Linked DNA regions of Homo sapiens: region 2 is linked to region 1. The links come from fine-mapping of genetic effects on plasma protein levels. A gene starts in region 1. The other region holds a variant in brackets. All regions are shown on one strand. Distances are from middle to middle.

Region 1 (11,262 bases):
AGCTGCCATCAGCCTTTATGCAGAAGGGAGCGGCCTGGCCTGCGAGAGCTGGCTATTGGTGGGTCCCAGGCCCTCCCTGGCTTCCTTTCCCTCATCTCTGCTAGGAGGGGTGGGTCTCCGAGGTCCTCACAGCCAGTCTGATCCACCCAAAATCCCTCCCCAAAGAGTGTGCTAATAGCTAGTGTGTATTGTCAAGTGGTGCAGGGGATGGAAAGGTCCCAGGCTCTGGCCGCTCACTTGCTGTGTGACCTCAGGCATGCCTCTCCCCCTCTCTGAGCCTCAGTGTCCTCCGACATAAAACAAGCACAATAATGGGGGCCCCTGAGGCCCTTGTGGCCATTGGTTAAAGTCCTGAGTGGGCAGCTCAGGAAACAGCAGCACAGCTTTGGCATCTGGGATTCCTGTGACCCTGCCCTCACCAGGCACCCACCTGTTACTGCCATCAAACTCGTTGGCGTGGCCCGAGAATAAAGAGCAGGCAGAGATGCTGACCACAGGGGTCCTGATGGAGCTCTGGGTCACGCGGGTGTCAGCCAGCAGTTCCACAGGCAGCGTCAGCTCCAGGGGCTCTGGGGCGCTGTAGGGATGCCAGTCCTGAGCCCGAGCAGCACCGCCCAGCAGAGCCCACCATGACTGATGATAGATCTTACAAATTCCCCAGCCCCTGCCTGCCCTCCACTTGGCCCAGGCAGGCCCCCCACTCCCAGAGTGAGATGGCCCTACCTGGGGCAGGCCCACAGCCCCCAGCCTCAAGACTCCACTTGGGGTCATAGACGTTGCAGCAGTGGGTGTGAGCACTGGCTGTCCGGAGCCTCTCACTGTGAGACCCTGGGCCAGTCATTTACCATGCTGAGCCTCAGTTTCCTCTTCTGTAAAATGGACATAAGGTTGGTGGGACCTATTTCGCAGGGCTGTGCTGAGTTTCCTGTGAGATAATCATGTGAAAACACCCAGCACAGAGCCTGGCCCACAGGAAGCAATCATAAAATCATAGTGTCAGGGTAGAGAAGCTAGATAAGAGACCCCTCTGACTGCACAGCTCATGGTGTGAAAATTAAATGCAGTAACATACAAGATGCCAGGCACACAAAAATAACTCTGATCGTTATGCTTATTGAGCGTCTCTCATGTGCCTTGCCCTGGGAAAGAGAGGACAGTCATTATAATCACAGCAATGAACCCATTCACCAAACCGTCATTGGCACTTTACAGAAGTTCATCCCATTTTACAGATGAGGAAGCTGAGGGGGTAAACAAGCCAAGTGACTCTGCCCAGTTGCAGAGCTGTTGAGCAGGGTTCTCAGAAATGTTCTCACTATCTTGCTCCCCTCCAAGCGTGAGGGGAGAGAGAGCAACTGGACAGAGAGTCAAGAGGCCTGGATGAGGGCCCTGGAGGAGTTGCTACCCCCCGTCCCCTCACTGTATCCCTCGGAGCATCCCCAAAACCCTTCTCACCCCCTAACAAGGAGATCCGCTCACCGAAAGACCTTGAAAGTAAAATTAGCTGCTGCCAGCAGGCGCACTCCGAAACCAGCAATGAATTTCAGGTGGAGGCGGGGCACATGGACATTCAGAATCCGGATCCTGCAGGGTAGTAATCAAGGTGACAGAGTGGCCCCCATTAAACCATGGGATCAACTCTGGGGTGGGTGCTCTGAGCCATACCCACACGATGTTATAAAGAAGGGCTTTCTGACAATTGGAACCATGAGGTAAGGGGAAGATGGTGAGTTCTCCATCACCACGGGGCATGCAAACCAAGGTTGGACACCAGCTGGTAGGGAGAACATGCAGAGGGGCCCCCGCTTCGGGCAGGACTTGGGTGAGATGATTGCTCAGGTTTTTGACAGTTTCCGACCCCTGCCTGGAAAGTTGGGAAGGTTGGAAAAGAAAAACTTCAGGAACCACAGAAGGCAGAAATCCTCTCTCTGGTATCCTAGTCAATGTCTGCAGCTCGTAGCCTACAGCAACAGAAGCTCCCCCACTTCAAAGCTCCAAGCACTCTCCAGCTAACCTGTGATTTATTTTATTTCCTAAATGAAAGTCATTTCTGCACTGTACAGTTCAGGTCCCCGTACAGAAGCTGCGTCTGTGCACTCAACAATCCTGGGTTCAATCCTGTGTCTACAAACAAGAGCCCCGGGCACTGTTTTCAAACAGCCCCATGGTGTCCATTGTGTGGCCAGACCACAAGTGATTTAGGCATCTTTGGTCGCTGGGTATTTATGTCCAGTTCTCCACCTTTATTAACCATGCCATGAACTGCATTTCAGCTCTTCCTAAGGGATCTCAAACTGGTGGCCCCCAAGCCAGATGTTTTTTTCACCATCCACCCATTGTTCCAGGGTCTTAAAGTCTTAAATATTTTTTGTTTGTTTGTTTGTTTTTGTTTTTGTTTTTTTGTTTTGAGACAGAGTTTCATTCTTGTCGTCCAGGCTGGAGTACAATGGCACAATCTTGGCTCACTGCAACCTCTGCCTCCCAGGTTCAAGAGATTCTCCCACCTCAGCCTCCTGAGTAGCTGGGATTACAGGCACACGCCACCACTCCCAGCTAATTTTTGTATTTTTAGTTGAGATGGGGTTTCACCATGTTAGCCAGGCTGGTCTTGAACTCCTGATCTCAGGTGATCCACCCACCTCGGCCTCCCAAAGTGCTGGGATTACAGGCGTGGACCACTGCGCCTGGGCTTTAAATGTTTTTTCATTAGTTGCTATCATTCCAAATTTGATGGATTCTAGATGTATATCTTCTCTTGGAAACCCAAAGATCTGACAGTAGTGAGCCCTAGTTCCTATGTGGAAGGTGACTGTTGACCAGCCCAGGGGTGTCTAAGTTTGGGATGCTCCACATCCCTATGCCTTTAGTTTCTGCATTAAGCAGAGTAGGGTGGAGGTAAAGGAGGCTCAGATTCGTGTCTAAATTCAGTATCCAGTTTCTAGAAACAGAGGGTCCTGCCAGCCCTGGGGACCCAGGAGCCACTCTTAGCCCTTGAGGGCAGAAATTCACTAATTCAGAGGCACCAGGCCCGGCTTCTCCATCTTGGGTCCCTCTCTTAAATCATCTTGTGACCACTCACCTTGTGGGAGGGAGCACTCACCTTCAGTGGAGAGTGCTCATCTGGTGGACTGGAACACTTTGCCCCGTGGATAGGAGCATCTGCCCAGCAGGCAGGAGCACATGCCCGGTGGACTGAAGCACCCACCTGGCAAGCAGGAACACTCCACTTGGTGGCAGGAGCACCTTCTCTGGAGGAGGGGAGCACTCACCTGGTGGGCTGAAGCGCCTCTCCACTCCAGTCCAGGAAATGAGGGACAGTGACCTGCAGGGCCCGCTGGAGAGGGGCTTTCCCAATTTCAGACACTGTGGGGCCAGGGTAGAGTGAGGTCAGGGTGCCCTCGGGAACCACCAAGTAGCAAGAACACACTGCCTGCCATCTACCCTGCACCTTGGGCAGAGGGTACTCAGACTGGAAGGGGTAGGCTTACTCCAAGCATATGGGGAGGGCAGCTGACTCCCCATGAGCCCACCTTGGGTGCACCACTCGCATCAGGCTCTCTCCACCTGGGCATGACCTCCTTCTCCCACTCTGCCTCTCAAAATCCTGCTGATTTACCCCGTCCTTCAAAAGCAACAAAATCCTTTGCCCTCTTGCAAGGTTCCAACCAGATCCCATCTCCTCTGGGAGCCTTCCCTAAGTTCCCAAGCAGAAGGGGCATCTCCCAGTCATCCCTGGCCTGCTGTGGAGGCGCCCATGGGAGCAGAGGGGACGTCCCTTGGGAGGGGAGGGGACAGCCTCACCTGGGGGCTGAGGACTCAAGAGTCTCTCAGATCCTGGTTTCAAACCGCAGTGCTCACTGCTACTCACTGCCTGTGTGGCTACTCTGTGCCTCAGTTTCCCCATCTATACATCTGCAATGATTCTAATGGTATCTGTCACATAGGATCATTGTAAACACTCAGTGCACAGCAAATGCTAGCTTCTACCATTGCTATTTATTTTTGTAATAATAGCGGCAATCGTTTATGTTGTGATCCTGTAGTGCCAGGCCCTGTTCTGAGTGCTTTACTTTTCCTGTTATCGTGCCCAGTTTACAGAGAGGTGAGGGCACCTGGCCAGGGAAAGCTGGCTTTGGACCGAGGGACCTGGCTCCCGAGCCTCTGGGCATCCTCACTCACCTGTGCTGCTGAGCCCCAGAGAGGTGCTAATTAAGCAGGAGTTGAATTAGAATAAGAGGTGATGGTGCTGGAAGGGAGCTTCAAATGAGGAGTCAAGAGGCCTGCCCACTGCTCAGACTCACTGTGGGAACTTGAGGAGTCCCTGCACCTCTCTGGTTCTTAGTCTCCCCCAACAAGAAGCATAAAGGCGGTGGTTTCCATGTTTCCCAGCACCCCTCTCCCACCTAACCATCTGCAGCTGAGCTGGAACTCACACCCAGACCTCAGACTCCATCTACAGTGCTCCCTTGACGCAGGGTTTGAACTCTGGGGCTTGCAGGATGGGGTGGGGAGGACACTGGAAGTAGCCACTCAGCCCAGCCTGGGGAGCAATGCGTCCAGCGTGGGCCTCCAGCCAGATTTCTGCCAAAAACAAACACAGGCAGGCAAGCTGGGGAGGGCTCCCTGGGGACAAAGGAGGCTTGCACAGGATGGGCAGAGGGCAGGAAGGCGGCGGAGGGCGCGGGCCTCATGGCCCTACCTGCAGGCATCCATGAATGGCTCCATGTCATGCTCTGGCACGGATCACTGACCCCTTTCATTGCCTGCCCATCAGCCCGGATATGAGGTCCCGGAAGGCTGTGTTTACCCAGGGGTGGGGGAAACCTGCTACTTCCCTGAGCCACTGCTTCATGTCCTGGGCCACTGAAGGTCCCATCTACTGTCTGACCTGACTTTCTCACACTGTAATCTGAGTTTGGCCTTGGGGGAAACCGCTTCTGATCTCCTGGCTTTGGTGGGAAACCAAATTCTCACCGGGAGGCAACTCGAGGTGAATAAACATGTTTGTGCTGGCGTCCTGGACCTTGGCAATGTCTGTCCCTCCCTGGGGCTAAGTTTCTTCATTGTGCCCTCCTTAGGGGATTGGGGCAAGACTTGGAAGGATCTAGCAGCACAGCCGTAAGACAGAGCCCTCGCACAAGTGGGACCCAGAGAGCGGATGGTTCTCTCACGCTGAGCTCAGAAGGGATATAACTTTAGAACACTCCTTGCATCACGGTGCTAGACAGACCTCTCCCAAGAACACACGTGCGTGCACACACCACATACGCAAACGTGTACACCCAGGGTGAACAGCCGTACCTGTGCACACACATCCAGGCAGCATCATGGGCTTGCACCCTCCCCGACACTTAAGTACACACGTGGGCACAGCTCTATGAAATTTCAAACTCATAAGTAGACACACACAGGTAAAAATAGCCCCTCAAACCGACCTATGCCCACATCACCAAAGCATGTGAGCAAGTCACATGTGCACACTTGCACACTGGCCACATGACGTACTCCCCCCTCACGCATTTATGTAATAAGCATTTGTTGAGCAGCGCCATGTGTCAGGCACTGTCTGGGTGCCAGGGACACAACTTCCAATTAAAATCTGGGTCCTCATGGGCCTTTTGAGTTCACAGCTACGCACACACACTTAGGATTGCACACGCATGTACAGGCTCACAGACACTCACTGGGTAACACACCGCTTACCGTAGCTCAATGCTGCCTTGTTGAGTCGGACCACGGTGCCTGGCGTGGAGGCACCGACCACGGGCAGCAGCAGTGCCAGCAGCAGGCCCAGCCTACTTGCCCAAGCCATGGCTGCCCTGGCCGCTGCCCACAGGATCTGTGGGCTGGGGTAGAAATGAGCATCAGGGAGCTCAGCCAAAACAGCCCACCCCTGAGCCACCCGAACCCCACTCCAGCCTGGAGGGAACAAGCCCTGACTGGTGATCCCAGCCCTGCCCCAGGCCCACAGACATCAGTTTTTGCATCTCTGCATTGGGAACCATCACCTTGCCTTGCTTGCTTCATCAGGAATCATGGGGGAGTCCCTTCTGGAAATGACCCGCAATGCCCAGAGAAGAAATGGTCTTGCCTAGGGCCACACAGTGGACTGGGACCAGGTGCAGGACCCAAGCCATGGCATAGAAGGATGGTGAGACTCCCAAACGGGGAGACTGAGGGTAGTTTCCTGTCCCAAGAAGATGCCCAGGACTGTATCACCTGATGCCGGAGTCCAGCCCCGTGTGACAGCCAGCTTGGTGTCCAGCTGTCCACCAAATTCAGCCAGGGGAGGACCCAGGGTGGCTCCTGTCCTCATCCCCTCCTGGCCAGGTGGTAAATGGCCTAAGAGTAGGCCTCTCACATGGCCCCCATCCTCTCCTGACTCAGTCTGGCCAAATAGGCAGATCTGTGTCTGACTCAGGGAGAGGGAGCCAGGCAGGAGTGAGGGACTGCGGCTCAGGTGGGTCTGCTGAGACCCAGGATGGCGGCACTTGCCCAGGTCCTACAGCAAGGCCAGGGGTGGAAGGACCCTTCTGCAGAGGGTGGCTGGAGGTAGCATCCCCACTGAACAGATAGAGAAGCCAAGCCTCCTTGGAAGTGGTGTACCAGCCCAGCCCCATGCCTACCTCAGGTGGTTCCTGAGACAGGTGAACTCTCAGCCCCAGGGTAGCCCTCCTCTGCCCGAGGCAGGCAGATGCAGAGGCTACTTTATAAGGCTCCCAATGTGCAGAGTCCACTGGGAAGGGACCCAGGGAGCGGCGAGTTTGCTTGTGGTTGCAAGTGTTTTCCCTGCAAACATGGCCTTTGCCAAAGTGTCTCATCCCACATGTGCGCTGGGGCTGCCACGTAGCCAGTAGCCAGGCCCAGCTCCCAACCACTACAAGCCCCTGGGGCTAGGCAGCTATGGCCTTAGTGAGGGCCAGGAGATCTCTGGAAGGAAAGCTGCTTCTAGGAGGGTATCTTATCATGCCCAGCCAAGGCCTGGGAGGATGGGGCCCATGAGGACCCCATCCCCCCTCCCATAGGCAAGGGGATGGCTGCAATGACCCCTCAAGCCTGGTACCTCCAAGCTCTCTCGGAAACATGACCCTTTTAGGAGGGGCAGAAGGCTACCTGAGCACCATCCTCAGTCATTGACTGAGCCCTGACCCTGTCACATATTCACACACTGAGTCCTGACCCCAGTTACTGAGCTCTGACCCTGATCACATGCTGAGCCCTGATCCCAGTCACAAACTGAGCCCTAACTCAGAAGGGAACAGAAGAGAAAGTGTGCGTGACCTGTCCCCACAGCTTAACATCCCAGCCTCTCTCCAAATGCACATTCCACTCACAATGGATTAGTCCACGGTCTCTTTCCACATTACAAACGTCAGCCTCCGCCTTGGCTGGATGGGACCCAAGGAACTGTGTGTGCGCATGAAGGAATTTGCATATGCACATGTGTGGATGAGGGTTGTGTTGATACATGCATGTGAGTGTGTGTGCATAGTCACATGTACGGGGAAAATGTGTGCTCTTATGTGTGAGTGTGGACATGAAATGGGCACGTTGGCATCTTGGTTTATGGTGTTGTGTGTCTATTCACACAATCCAACAGGACCACAGAGGTGGGGAGTTTTGTGTACATGTATGCATGTGTGGGCTTGGCCTACTGAGTGTTTGTGGGTCTGTGAGTGTGTGGTGTTAGGTGCATGTGTGTATGCAAGTGGACTGTTTCCTGGGATGGGGAGGTACATGTATATATGTTCTTGTGTGTGTGCATATATGTGTGCACAGCAGGCGATGGCCTTTCCATTTTTCTTCATTGGCACAGGATGACTTGGGGCCTTTCCCCAACTCCAGGGCACTCTTTGACTCCCACTGACCCCACACCAGCCCAAATATCAGGCCCAGCTCCCAGGCCCACCCTGTGCTAGGCCTCCACCAGTGTCTACAAAGCTGACCACAGACACCATCAAGCCCTCCCCTGAGCAGCTGGAGCTCACTTGAACCAGCCCTGCCTCCCAACCAGTGCTCCCTTGCCCCTATTCTAGACGCAAAGAGGAATGAGAAGAGCCTGCTGTGAGCTCCCTGACACCCTGCTCCTGGCCTTGGTCTGTCCACCAATGCCCAAGACCGGCCCCTCCTGCGCCCTCACCATAGCTGATGCAAACAGCAGACTCAGTGGACAGAGGCGCAAATATTGACCAAACCCACTCTTGGTGTTTGCTGTTGGCCTGGACACTTCCTTTTCTTAAATATTTCCAGCACAAGAGCCATTTGGGTGACAGCCAGTAGACATAAAAGAGGGAGATTCTCACCAGCCCATCCCAGATCTCAACCGGCTCCTGACAGCAATGGCAAGCACCGTTTGGTGAGCACCTGCTATATGCAGAATGTTCTGCCAGCCACTTTGCCTGCATCCGCAGGGATGGGAGCTGGTTCTGCTCAGCCCTGTTTCCAGCACCTGGACCATACTAGGTGCATAAATATTTGTTGAATGAATAAATGAATGAGTATACATTTGAAAGACCCTTGTAACAATTGTAGTGGTGGCATTTCAGAGTTTCCCCTTCACTGAATATTCTCAGGGGTTTTGCATTGGTGTCCTGTTGCTGCAATAATGTATTATCACAAACTTAGTGACTTAAGACACAATTTATCATGTTACCATTCTGGAGGTCTGAAGTCCCAGATGGGTCTCCCTGGGCTAAAATCAAGGAAGTATTGGCAGGGCTGTGTTCCTTGCTGGAGGCTGTAGGAGAGGAATTGTCCACCTGCCTTTTCCAGCTTCTAGAAGCTGCCCTTATTCCTTGGCTCCTGGTCCCTTCCTCCATCTTCAAAGCCAGCATGTTGGGCTGAGTGCTTCTTGTGCTGCCATCTCCCTGCCTCCCTCTTCCATTTTTAAGGACCCTTGTCATTACATTGCACCCACATGGGTAATCTAGGGTATTCTTCCCATCTCAAGATCGACTGATTAGCAACTTAAATTGCTCTTCTAGTTTTAACTCCCTTTTGCCTTGTGACTTAACATATTTACATGTTCAGGTTTTAGTGTGTGGGCCTCTTTGAGGGACCATCGTACCACTTCCCATTGGTAATTAGCCTGCAATTTTAAGCAACTGCCACCAGGGGGCAAAAGTGAATTCATTTTAGCTTTGCTATCCAAATAGTCAAGCTCCCTACAGGCAGGGTGAACAGAAAAAACTTAGCCCGACATTTCCACTCGGTTATGCTTTTATTTTCCCCAGTAAAAAAGTAGAACTTTATTTTTGGACATAGAGTCTCACTCTGTTGCCCAGGCTGGGTGCAATGGCGCGATTTCTGCTCACGGCAACCTCTGCCGCCTCCCGAGTCAAGCAATTCTCAAGCCTCGGCCTCCCGAGTAGCTGGGATTACAGGCACACACCACCACACCCAGCCAATTTTTTGTATTTTTAGTAGAGAAGGGGTTTTGCCATGTTGCCCAGACAGGTCTCAAACTCCTGAGCTCAGGCAATCCACCCGCTTCTGCCTCTCAAAGTACTAGGATTACAGGCATCAACCACCGGGCCCAACAAAAAGTAGAACTTTATTAAAGCAACAACACATGCAATGTTATTTTGTGTTATGCACAATGTCCACCAGTGAGAAGCTCAGCATTACAAAATGCATTCAGGTGCAACCTAAGAAGGTGAAAAGCCTGGGAAGCTTGGGGCAGGAAGGGATCTAGGAAACAAGGAAAAGCATGGTTGGGTTACTGGAGCTTCAGCTCTCGCCCCTGTCCAGCTTCTGAGACCCCAGCATGGCCCTTCCTGTCTTGATGCCTCAATTTCCCCATCTTAAGAAAGGAAAGTGGGTCACAATGGCTTCCTCTGGGGGAGGTTCTAGGGCCAAGCTGGAGACTAGCCCCATCCCCTGCCCCTCCACCCACCTGCTCTGTGAGGTCACAATGCCAACTGCTCCACTGATCCTGGCAGATTCCACTTGGCACTTTTCAGGGGACATTCAGAGGCATCAGCCCCTTCCTCCTCACCAGCTCCCAGAGTTCCCATCTCCATCCCCAATCCTAAAGAAGGAAATCGATGCCACGGTCCTCAAGGAGCCCTGGGGACCCAGGCGCCCTACTCGAAGATGTGGCCCACAATCCCAGACCCCGGAGGTGAGGATGGCAGCCCCTCCCTTTGCCCAGCCCTTTACAGTTTACAAAATGCTGCCCCTCCACCCTGTCCTTGGAGATGAGTGGCATTGTCAACTGTACTGTACAGAGACAGCCACCAAGACCAGAGAGGTTTGGCAGTGGTATTCCCAAAGTCTCCCAGCCAGGAAGTGGTGAAGCAGCCATCCTTCCAGCACGCATTTATTGAGCATCTACTGTGTGCCGGGAAATGCACAGAGGACGGGGAACACGGTGTGGCACCAGTCTGATGTGCTCCGTTCCCTCATGGAGCTCACGGTCTAGTGCAGGAGACTGGTATGAAAGAAGGAAACAAGTATTTCGCCATCTTTATCTGTCAGAAAGCCTCTGAATGCAGGTGACAGAAATTCCAACTTAAAATGATGCCTATCTCTGGGCACCCAAATCTGGGTGTATATCCCAAGAGAGTATACCAAACAATCCCCAAGGGTGAGAAAAGAAATAACCAGGCTAGAATGTATGTCTTTCATCCTCTTTTAATTTATATTATTCAGGAATGTTACCATAAATCTGTACATTTGGGAAGGGTAAACAATGTATTAGTACAATTGGGTGTATATATAATTTATTAATAAACCAATATAAATACTCTGAGGTGGTATAAACAAAAATGTTTAAAGACCTTTGACTTAAGAAATAAGGGAAAATTTTAAATCTCACATATCAAGAGGTCCCAAGGTGCAGGGGGCTCCGGAGTGTGTTAATTCCTCAGTTCTGCCACCCAAGACCCAGGTTCCTGTCATCATTCTGCTCTTTTAGCCCCCTCTCATGGTCACAAGATGGCCACCACAGTTTCAGGTGTCACGCAGAAATGTGGCGTCTAGGGGAAGGAGAATAAGCATCGTTTTCTGTGGGTCTCATTTAGCTAATCCTAAACCTAACTTTTCCCCCAAGTCCCTTACCTCGTAACCACCCCCCTACCTCACCCTACCTCACCCCTGCAGACTTCCTCACCCTTGAACCAATCACAGCACAGGGAATGGGAGCACGACAGCAGGCTTCGACCAATCAAAATGGCCTAAAATCACATTGGGTAGGAGCAGACAAAGGAACAAAACCAAGCTTCTGCCAACCTCGGGGACATGGCGACAACCGCCTGTGAC
Region 2 (11,262 bases), 14 kb after region 1:
AAGCCAAGAAATGCTTCAGAAGTTATAAAGCTCTCCCCAAACCGTGTTATGAACATTGTTACTTCCGCTTTCTGGGTTTCCATGGCTTCTTTCCAGCCACCACCCCCACCTCGCACAACACAGCTTAGCTTTCCCAAGCAAAGGAATCTCCTCCCTCCACTGACATATACTGGCTTTGGAGTGGAGGCTGGGGGTGGGGTAGGGAGGGAGAATCAGCTCCCCATGGGAAAATAGACAGTGAATCCTAGAGAACCGTCCCACTTTAAAATCCAACAACTAGGACTTCGATAAATAACACCTTTGTTGTTGTTGAGACAGAGTCTCACTCTGTTGCCAAGCTGGAGTGCAGTGGCGCAACCTCGGCTCACTGCAACCTCCGCCTCCCGGGTTCAAGCAATTCTCTGCCTCAGTCTCCCGAGTAGCTGGGACTACAGGCGCGCGCCACCACACCCTGCTAATTTTTGTATTTTTAGTAGGGATGGGGTTTCATCATCTTGGCCAGGCTGGTCTTGAACTCCTGACCTCATGATCCACCCACCTTGGCCTCCCAAAGTGCTGGGATTACAGACGTGAGCCATCGTGCCCAGCCTAAATAACACCTTTATTGTGACGCTATTAGAAATGGGTTTCTTAATTTTGTTTTCAGGTTATCTATTGCTAGTATATAGAAATACAGCTGACTTTTTGTACCTTGATCTTGTATCCTGCAACCTTGCTGAACCCGATTTTTAGTTATAACACAAGGCAAGACACCTAACCTTGGATCCCTTAGAATTCTAATGCAAGATCATGTCATTTGCAAATAGTGGTAGTTTAACTCTTTTCTGCATGATAATCTGGACGACCTTTACTTCTTTTTTGTTTTTTAAGACAGGGTCTGTCTCTGTCACTTAGGCTGGAGTGCAGTGGTGCAATCATAGCTCACTGCAGCCTCAAACTCCTGAGTTCAAGTGATCCTCCCACATCAGCCTCCTGAGTAGCTAGGACTATAAGCGTGCACCATCACCCCCAGCTAATTTTTTAATTTTTGTTTAAATTTTTTTTTTTTTGGAGAGATTGAGTCTTGTTGTGTTGCCCGGTTTGGTCTAGAACTCCCAGCCTCAAACCATCGTATCTCAGCCTCCCAAAGTGCTAGGATTACAGGTGTGAGACACCACGCCTGGCCTACTTCTTTTTCTTGACTAACTGGCCTGGCTAGAACCTCCAGTACCATGTTAAATAGAACTAGCAAGAGGAAGCATCCCTGTCTCATCCCTGATCTTAGGGGAAAAGCGCCCAGTCTTTCACCATTAAATAGGATGTGAGCTGTGAGCTCTTCATGGATGGTCTTTATCATGGTGAGGAGTTTCCCTTCTATTCCTAGTTCGTTGAGGGTTTTATCAAGAAGAATAAATAAATTTTAAAGGCTGTTTTTGTTTTTTGGTTTTTGGGGTTTTTTGAGACAGAGTCTCTGTCACCCAGGCTGGAATGCAGCAGCATGATCTCGGCTCACTGCAACCTCTGCCTCCCGGGTTCAAGCGATTCTGCTGCCTCAGTAAAAGCTGTTTGTTTTTTAGACAGGGTCTCAACTCTGTTGCCCAGGCTGGAGTGCAGTGGATCACAGCTCACTGCAGCCTCGACTTCCTGGCACAAGTGATCCTCCCACTTCGGCCTCCGGGTAGCTGGGACTATAGACGTGCACCACACCGGGCTAATTTTTGTATTTTTTTTTTTTTTTTTTTTTTTTGTAGAGATGGGGTTTCACCACATTGGCCAGACTGGTCTTGAACTCCTGGGCTTAAGTGATCTGCCTGCCTCAGCCTTCCAAAGTGCTGGGATTATGGGCGTGAGCCACCACACCTGGCCAAGACTTTTAAATAATGGCTTGAATGGTGGCTTTTCAGCCAGCATGGAGATCATAAAATGCAGAGCGCCTTCTTCTCTTTGCCAGTTATCCCCAGTAGAGTTGGAACAGGGAAGGGGGAGCCACAGATGACTTGGTTTATGTGCCATGTATTACACATTTGATATCATCTGATCATGAAGTGGATATTATTGTTATTCTTATTTTACAGAGGAGGGAACAGAGGCATAGAGCATTAAGTAATTCCCCCAGTGTTGCACAATGCTGGCAAGTGGCATAGCTGGGATTTGAACCCAGATGTCCTAACTCCAGCACCTAGGCTCTTCATCTTGCATGTTAAATGGCTCATTCTTATTCTCATGGCCTCACAGGATTCTGGATGTTTTCTATTCACTTACCATCGAAAATGAAAGTCTGGCAGGTGAGTGTGCACCCTCCTCAGGCCCCACAGCTGACAGGTCTCACCCTAACCAGTCAATATCACCTCCACAGCTCCATTCATTCTCACCAAATGGGGCCCCTCATCAGTTCCTGACTTGACCCAGATCCAAATCTCACCCTTCATCGTACCATCCACCTAGAACCCATCTCTCTGCCAGAGGTGACTTTCAAAGATTGGATGCAATAGTCCCTCCTCCAAGATGGCTCTCCTGTATTGACTCTCAGAGATGACCCATCTCTCCTTTCTCAAGGCCCCACTTAAAGTGGGGTGGTGATAACAGGGAACACATTTCTGTACTTAAGGCAGCTTGTCCTTCTGCTTAACAGCAATGATACTCATTTGCTTTCAGGTTTCTGAGGAGGAAGGAGGAGGAAATAAGTAGCGAAACTCCCTACATGAGGTCTGCAAAAAGTCTCAGAGGACCTCAGAAAGGGAATCTGAAAGGCCTGTCCCTCCCTCTCCTCTTTTCCTCCTTATGAACCCCTTCATATCCATCAAGGTCCATCAAGGTCCGGCTAAAATATCACCTCCTCTAGAAACACCCAGGCAGAAGTTGTCACATTCCTCTTTCCTCCGATAATTTTCTGTGGTCATGACTGTCTCTCCAACTGTACTGGCAGCTTCTTGAAGGAAGGAGCCAGGTCCTATTCACCCCAGCAATGTTTAGTTTGGTGCCAGCAACAGGGTTGCCACTATCCATGTTGGATGACTGGATGGCCAGATGGGAGTGTGCATGGAGAGAGAATGGATGGGAGGATGGACAGATGGAAGGTTGGATTTGATGGATGTAGGACTAGGGGAAAGAGATAGGAGGCTAGGTGAATACATGAATAGGTGAATGGGTGGATGAAATGATGGGTGGATGCAAGAGCAGATGGGATAGATGAGTGGGTGGGTGGGTTGGTGGATAGATGGATGAATGAAAGAGTGGGTAGATGGGTTAGGGTATATGGATTGGAGTGTAAATAGATGGGGGAAGTTGGGGAGTTGGAAGAACAGATGGATAAGGGAGGGTGGGTGGGTATAAGGGTGGATGGATGAAGGTGTGGATGGATGGATAAAAGTCTGGAAGGATGAATAAAAAGGGCAGTAAATTAGAGTTTGGAGAAATGATAGGTGGGTAGACGGGTGGAAGAGTCAACAGGAAAGTGGATGAATGTATGGGTTTATAATTGTGGGAGAATAGATGGATGAAGTTCTCCTGGGGCCAGATTAAGCCATCTGAAGGAGACCCCTTACTTTCTCAATACTCCACCAGGATGACAGCATAAATGGTCCACTGCAGAGCTTGAGGTAAGAGGAATCTTCTGGGTAACCATATTATTACCTAAAAAGCAGAGCTATAGCCAGAATCTGGGGTGTATTGGCTACAAATATAGGCTCTGCAGTCAGATCAACCTGGGTTTAAATCCTAACTCCCATGCCTTCTACATGGCTGACCTTAGGCAAGTCACCTATTCTCTCTGGGCCTTTGACTCCTCATTTATGAGATGAAGCATAACACCCATCTTGCTCTTGGCAATTATGGGTGCTAAAGAAGATGCAAAGTGTCTTGAATAGCTCCTGACCCATAGTCAGTGCTCAGCAAATGGTAGCTGAGAAGAAATTTTAACCAAGACACCACCTGATGGCAGCATCCTTAATTGCAGACAAAATACTCAGGAATATTTGGAAGGAATGAGCTGGGTATAAAGATATTCCAAGCAGAAAGAAGAGAATGAGTAATGTTTTAGAGATAATAACCTGATGAATGGGTCCAGGGATGGGCCCAAGAGATTAGGAAAATCTGAAACTCATTCTTTGAGAGCCAACTAGCAAAGGGAAAATCTGAGGGTAACAACAACGCATCACAAATCAACCTGTTCTTGTTATCACTCCTTCCTGATAAGGTTGTACCAGGAGAAGGTGCGACATCACAGTGGGGAAATCCAGGACCTCCGAGGTAGCATGAACCAGCTCATTGCCAAGCTCCAGGAGATGGAAGCCATGTCCGATGAGGTGAGACGCTGGCCATTCTGCCCCAAACATCTAATTTCTCTTTGTTTGATGTCCTGTTTCCTATACCTCAAGTGTTCTTTCTTGGTTTTATCTCTCATTTTGAGGGAGCACATCCCCCAGTGACTTTCAGGAATACAGTGAAAGAAGTATATTTTTAGTGCTTGTATGTTTAAAAGCATCTTTTTCTATCCTTGTACTTGGTTGATAGTTTGGCTGGGTACAGAATTCTAAATATGAAATAGTTTCTCCTGAGAATGTTGAAGGAAGCCCACCACTCTATTATAGTTTATACTGTTGCTAATGAGAAGTCTAATGGCACTCTTATTATTGATCCTTTGAGTATGATCTATTTTTTATCCCTGGGAGCTTGTAGAAAAATCTTTTTGTCTCTAATGTTCCTCATATAACCTGGTTTGTGGTTTGCCGAGCTTATTAAATCTGTGGGTTGATATTTTTCAATAGTTTTGGGAAACTTTTACCTTTTATCTCTTAAAATATTTCTTCTTTCCATTATCTGTCTCCTTTCCTTGGATTCTAATTACACCTATGCTAGGCCTATGCTTTGAAAGCCTTTAGAGTGCTTTATGTGATTCCTACGCTATTACCTGGTTTGTTTTTTCATTCTTTTTCTGTTATGTGCTTATGTTTTGATATTTTCCTATTAACCTTTCTTCAGGTTTACTAATAATCTTGCATCATTCTGTCTCTCCAATTTATTATTAAATCCATGCATTTAGTTCTTTTTGTTTTTTTAATGGAGTCTCCCTCTGTCGCCCAGGCAGCTCACTGCAACCTCTGCCTCCTGGGTTCAAGTG[C/A]ATCCTACACCTGAGTAGCTGGGATTGCAGGTGCACATTACCACGCTCAGCTAATTTTTATATTTTTAGTGGAGACAGGGTTTCACCATGTCGACTTGGCTGGTCTTGAACTCCTGACCTCAAGTGATCCACCTGCCTCAGCCTCCTAAAGTGCTAAGATTACAGACGTGAGCCACTGCATCCAGCCTTAGTTCTTAATTTCAGATACTGCATTGTTTAGTTCTAGGATATACATTTGATTTTTTTCACAGACTTTAATTCTGTGGTGAAATTCCCCAACATTTCACCTATGTTGTCCATCTTTTCCTTTATTTTAATTAACACATTAGCAACAGTTATTTTAAAAATCCTTGTCTGCTAACTCCAATGTCTGGATCATCTGTGGCCTCCCTCTGTTTTCTGCTTTTTATCTTGGGTATCAATGATATGGTCTTGCCTCTTCAAGTCTAGTAACTTTTAGTGGTTTCTCAACATTGTATACAAAAGAACTGTAGCTGTTCCAAATAATTATAATTCCACTAGAGAAAGTTCCCCTTTTCTTTATAAGGAGGATGAAATAGACTGGTCACTTCTATCTAGACATGCACTAAGCTAGTTCAGACAGACCTGGATCACAATTTTAAAAAAATTTATCCAGAGGTTTTAAGCTTAACTCTTTAGACTCCTTCCCATGCAGCTTCAAAAATTTGACAACTGTCTTAGTGGCAGACTTACTGTATGTTTGAGGCCTCACAAGTCTCCAAATGTGTCTCTCACCCCTGCATGAACGCAAAAATCTCTGGGCCTGGTGGCAGCCTTCTCCGCCAGGAGCAAACTTGGATTCCTGGGTTCTAATTGTGCCCAGGATTGATTTAGTGCCCCCAGGTGAAGTGCAGCTGAAGCACAGTATTGACTCATCACCACCCCTTCTAGGGTAATGGATCTCAAAGTACGGCCCACGGCCCACGTGCCTGCATCATCAGTATCACCTGGGAAAATGTTAACAATTCGAATTAATAGGCCTCACTCAGACCTTCTGAATCAGAGGCTCTGAAGATGCAAACCAATCATCTGTGTTCCAGCAAGCCTTCCAGGTGGTTCTGACATATACCAGAGAGAATCACTGTTCTAAGGCCTTGATCTCTTGCTTGTTGTGTTTTGCGGTGCCCTCCCTCAAAGGGACTTCGTTTCCTAAGCACTGTGAAGATATGAAGTTTTATTCTGCTTTTCAGAAATGTTTGAAGTGGCCTATAGCCTCCTATAGTCTTGAAATTCAGTTAATACCTTGTGAAGAAAAGTGGCCATATTTGAGGCTCCTCAAGTCCCCAGTTTTGTTACTTTAGCTCTTTGTCACCATTAAGAACTTTGCTTCCTTCTCTTTCACCAGTAGCAGCAGCCCATTGTCTGGCCTAAGCCCAGATCCTTAGCCTATGCCTAGAATCGTCAAATACCCCCAGAGATTTAAAACAAACGGACAAAAAATGCCAGCACATCTCAGAATGGTTTTCTGCTCTGCAGAATTTTAGTTCATCTGGTCCTTGTTGCTTCCACAGATGTGCCTATGGGCTGGCCACCCTTTGGAATCCGTCAATCTGGAAACTCCTGGCCTTTGGGCCTAAGAAATGTTATTTATTCATGTGACTAAATTGGTGATTTCCCACAGCAGCATTTGCTCTATTCTTATTTTTGAAGCTCCTGTTGTTTGAATGTCTGCTCCTGAACAATTATAATTTTTTTCATATCATTGGGTGAACATATATACTTATTGATCTTGGCGGTAGATATAACTAGGAGTGGAATTGCTGGATCATGAGGTATGAGTGTGTTCATGTTATTAGATGCTGCCAAATAGTTTTTCAATTTACGCTCCCATGAAAAATATATGCAAATTCCAGTTGTCCCACATTCTCACCAGCAATTGGTGTCATATGTCTTTTTTACTTTATTCTGCAGGGTGAGAAGTGGTATCTCACTATGGCTTTAATTTGCATTTCTGGTTGTTAATAATGTGGAGTGTCTTTTCTTGTATCCAGCGGCCATTTGGATTTTGTCTGTTGCCTTTTGGGGGAGAGTGCCATTTCTTATTGATATGTCGGAGTTCTTCTGTGTTCTGGGTAAACATATTTTATTGGATGTACATATTGCAAATATCTCCTCCCAGGCTATAGCGTGGCTTTTCACTCTCAATGGTGATGAACAAAAATGTCTAATTTTAATTAAGTCCAGTGTATCTATGTTTTTTTGTGCAGTGCTTTGGGTATCCTATTTAAGAAACCTTCACCTGTCCCAACAGAGCCCTTCTGTTTTACCCTCTCCAGAGAATAACTTCTAGTCTTCTACTGGGGAACAGAGAAGTCCACTCAGCTTCTCAGAGTGAGAGGGAGTCCCCAGGGAATATGCAGATTCCTCTTAACTGTCTTAACACCCAATTCTCTACCCCAATTTCAGGGGCACCTAAGGCCACCAATCCTGAGCTTTTTGAGGATGGCCAGTTTCGGATTCAGATTTCTCATTTCTGCTAAATCAGTGGTTCTCAATTGGGGATTATTTTGCCCCCTGGGGAACATCCAGCAATGTCTGGAGATATATTTGGTTGTTACAATGTGAGGAGGAGACGCTACTGGCATCTAGTGGGTAGCCAAGGATGCTGCTAAACATCCTACAAGGTGTAGGACAACTTCCAGAATATTGCTGCTGTCTCCAGGGCCACTGCTGGGACACATTGTGCCTTTTTGCAGACTGGAAAAAACTATCTGTGCTGGGCAGATGAATTCGCAAAATGCACCTTCCTCCAAATCAAAGAACAGGGGAAGAGCTGGGTTTCAGCACCCACACAGGGCCCCTCAACTGGGAACCTTTCTGCTGTGCGCAACGTGCACAACCATACGCAGCAGCCTGGTTTTCTCCTCTCCTGTGCTTCCTGTTCATATGGGTTTGGGTCTTTTCAAATCCCTTTACTGAAGCTGTAATGGAGTGTTGGGAGAAACTAAAATTACGTGATGTCTTCGATCCATCAACTTTACCTAGAAGTTGAATTTTTAAAAGAGTTCACAAAGATAAATTCCATTGTGCAAGATTCAGCAAAATTTGCTAAAACTCATCTTTATCTTTTATTGTCCCAAAGTCCTAGGTCTCCAGTGCCCCTGAATCTCCCCTCTAAGCTCTGTTCAGACAGACCCAGGAGGAGAGACCGTGTCAGTCACTCACTGTCAAGTGAGGCTCTTGGCAGGTGTTTCCTCTGCAGTGGGGAGGGAAGCCCCGCTATGACTTACAAAGGCAGTAAGGTATAGTGATTATAAGGACTGGCTCTAGAGTCAGGCTGCTAGGCTTTGAATTTCATCCCCACCACCTATAAGCTGTGTGACTCTGGTCAATTTACTTACCGTCTTTGTGCCTCAGTTTCTTCATCTAGAAGATGAGTTGTAAGGATTAAACATGGTAATTCATGTAAACTTAGACTAATGTCTGTCCTATGGTGAGTGCTCCCTAAATGTGTGTTGCATTTAAACAAAGGCAGAATCCAAAGGCATGCACTCATCAATGTGCAATCATTAAGTGCCTACTGCGTGCTGGGGATCCAGGATCGGGGATCAACTAGAGCTCGTCCTTGCCCTCAAGCCAGTCCCAGCACCTGTGGATCCCAGAGAAGAAGACTGCACTCAGCCTTGGGGCAGAGAAAGGGTGGGGGCCATCAGGGAAATTCCTTAGGGTTGGCGACCCAGTTTTGAAAAGTAATAGGTGAGATTATTGTCCCCAGTAAACGAGGGGAGGAGTTGGGGATTTTTTTGCCTTTTGGAGCTGTGTAACCTCAGGCAGGTCATCAACCTCTCTGAGCCTCCAGTTTGCACATCAACAAGACAGAATCATAATCACTGCCTTGTAACACCCTGGCTATTGTTCTAGTTACCATTGCCACATAGCAAACCATCCCAAAACTTAGGGGTGTGAAACAACCACTTGTGCTCAGAGATTCTGTGGGTTAGGAATTCAGACAGGACACAGTGGAGATGGCTTGTCTGTGTTCCATGGTATCTGGGGCCTCAGCTGGGAAGACTTGAAGGCTGGAGGTGACTCTACATCTGGGGCTGGAATCATCTGGATTCACTCACGTGACTGGAGATTGATGCTGGCTATCAACTGGGACTCAGTTACGGCTGTTGATCAAAGCACCCATCTGTGGCCTCTCCGTGTGGCCTGGGCTTCCTCTCAACATGGCAGCTGGCCTCCAGGAGTGGCTGTCCCCAGAGAACCAGGCAGTGCTGTATCATTTTTTAGGACTTAGCCCTAGATGTCACACAGCATCACTTCTGCCAAGTCATTAGCCCAGACTGGTGGGAAGGGAGCTTAGACCCCAACTCTCAGTGGGAGGTCACACTGAAAGAAGAGCCTGGAATGGGAGACCTTGTTGCAGCCATTTTTGGAAAACAGAATCTTCCACCACTGTGAAGAGTCTAATAAAAAGAACAGCTGGTATTTATTGTGCACCTACTGTGCTAAGTGCTTTGCCATCCGCATCTGGCAGCAGAGTGGAGCGGTTAAGGGCCTGAACTCTGGAACCACAGTGATCGCTCTGCCTCATACCAGCTGGGTGATCTTGAACAAGCTACACCTTTGTGCCTCAGTATTCTCATCTTTAATACAAGGATGATAATAGTGCATACTTCTTAGGGGTGCTGGGAGGGGATAGGGTGAGCATATGTGAAGCCGAGGATAGCCCTGGCACATAGTAGGGGCTTTACAGATCCACAGTGGGAGGTAGACACGATTATTGTCCCCGTCTTACAGGTGAGAATATCGAGACTCAGAGGGGCAGTAAGTTGCCCAAGGCCCCACAACAGTAAAAGTTGGCCTGACGTCAGAGCCCCTGCCTGAACCTCACTGAGACTCCGGGACCTCCATATGACATCTGGTCACAGTGGACTTGAAAGCACCCAGTGAACCCAGGGTGGGGTCAGGATGGCTTTGTGTCACCTGGGCTTTCACAGAGCCACAGGCTTCCACAGGCAGGGGTGGGCTGTTAGGGAGAGGACAGCGTCCTGCAGCCCCCTGTTACCTCCCGTGGACACGTGGGGATCACAGTCCGTGACAACACACCAGGGCACAACTTGTGTTTTCTGCCTTTTCAGCAAAAAATGGCCCAGAAAATAATGAAGATGATACACGGAGATTACATCGAAAAGCCAGACTTTGCCCTGAAGTCTATAGGTAGGTGACCCCCTTCCCCACCATCTGACTGCCTCAAGTGTCCTGGGAAGCTGTACACAGGGTGGGTTTCAGTTCTGGTGTGGTACTCCCTCTGCCGCTGGGAAGTTCATCCTCTGTTCCAAGCTGGTTTTCTTGCTACAATTTTGTTTTCTCTCAAGGGGTTCTGGGACGGGGTGGGGTATGGGGGTAGGGGTGGGGTGGGGTGGGAGGGAACACGGGAATCCACAGGCCCTCAACATTATAGAAGATCTATAAAGACCCTACTATGTGCTTAGGCTGTTCTTGGCTTTACCTCTCCACCACCCCCACCCACCACTCTTCTCCAAACCCGATGCTGGGCACACAGGTCAGCAAGACAGAGCCATCTCCAACCCGCAGTCAAGAATCAGTGCTTCGGCCAGGTGTGGTGGCTCACGCCTGTAATCCCAGCACTTTGGGAGGCCAAGGCGGGCAGATCACGAGGTCAGGAGATCGAGACCATCCTGGCTAACACGGTGAAACCCCGTCTCTACTAAAAATACAAAAAATTAGCTGAGCGTGGTGGTGGGCGCCTGTAGTCCCAGCTACTCGGGAGGCTGAGGTAGGAGAATGGGGTAAACCCGGGAGGCAGAGCTTGCAGTGAGCCTAGATCGCGCCACAGCACTCCAGCCTGGGCGACAGAGAGAGACTGCTTCTCACAAAAAATAAAAAAAGTAAAATAATAATAATAAAAAAAAGAATCAGTGCTTCAGGGCTGGGCTTGGTGGCTCACACCTATAATCCCAGCACTTTGGGAGGCCGAGGAAGGCGGATCACCTGAGGTCAGAAGTTCAAAACCAGCCTGGCCAACATGGTAAAACCCCATCTCTACTAAAAATACAAAAGTTAGCTGGGCGTGGTTGTGGGCACCTATAATCCCAGCTACTCGGGAGGCTGAGGCAGGAGAATCGTTTGAACCTGGGGGACGGAGGTTGCGGTGAGCCAGGATCGCGCCACTGCAC

Direction of the effects. Alleles are on the strand shown, and positions count from the first base shown. The strength of an association depends on the size of the effect and on how common the allele is.
For the plasma level of the protein whose gene starts at base 6,683 in region 1, allele A in region 2 goes with a higher level than allele C (strong association).

Evidence for each region. PIP is the chance, under the fine-mapping model, that this variant and not a neighbour inherited with it causes the effect. The UK Biobank Pharma Proteomics Project read protein levels with antibody pairs (Olink). The fine-mapping took linkage between variants from a reference panel, not from the people measured, so its PIPs are less certain.
Region 2: its variant is fine-mapped to the plasma level of the BPIFB2 protein (UK Biobank, PIP above 0.99).

What each region holds. Positions count from the first base shown.
Region 1 is chr20:33,003,125-33,014,386 of GRCh38, reverse strand. It overlaps BPIFB2 (BPI fold containing family B member 2), which reads right to left and starts at 6,683. Exons shown (of 16, transcript NM_025227.3): 1 at 6,627-6,683; 2 at 5,704-5,846; 3 at 3,270-3,363; 4 at 1,480-1,584; 5 at 431-577. The coding sequence starts at 5,812. SUN5 (Sad1 and UNC84 domain containing 5) reads left to right here and starts at 9,954. Exons shown (of 13, transcript NM_080675.4): 1 at 9,954-10,123. The coding sequence starts at 10,047. RefSeq lists enhancers at 1-429, 5,308-6,302, 6,303-7,298.
Region 2 is chr20:32,988,640-32,999,901 of GRCh38, reverse strand. SUN5 (Sad1 and UNC84 domain containing 5) reads left to right here. Exons shown (of 13, transcript NM_080675.4): 6 at 2,215-2,264; 7 at 3,544-3,578; 8 at 4,175-4,283; 9 at 10,204-10,282. Among named protein-coding and RNA genes, the nearest start is that of SUN5, 10 kb to the left of the region's middle. The variant C/A (reference allele first, on the strand shown) is at 5,099.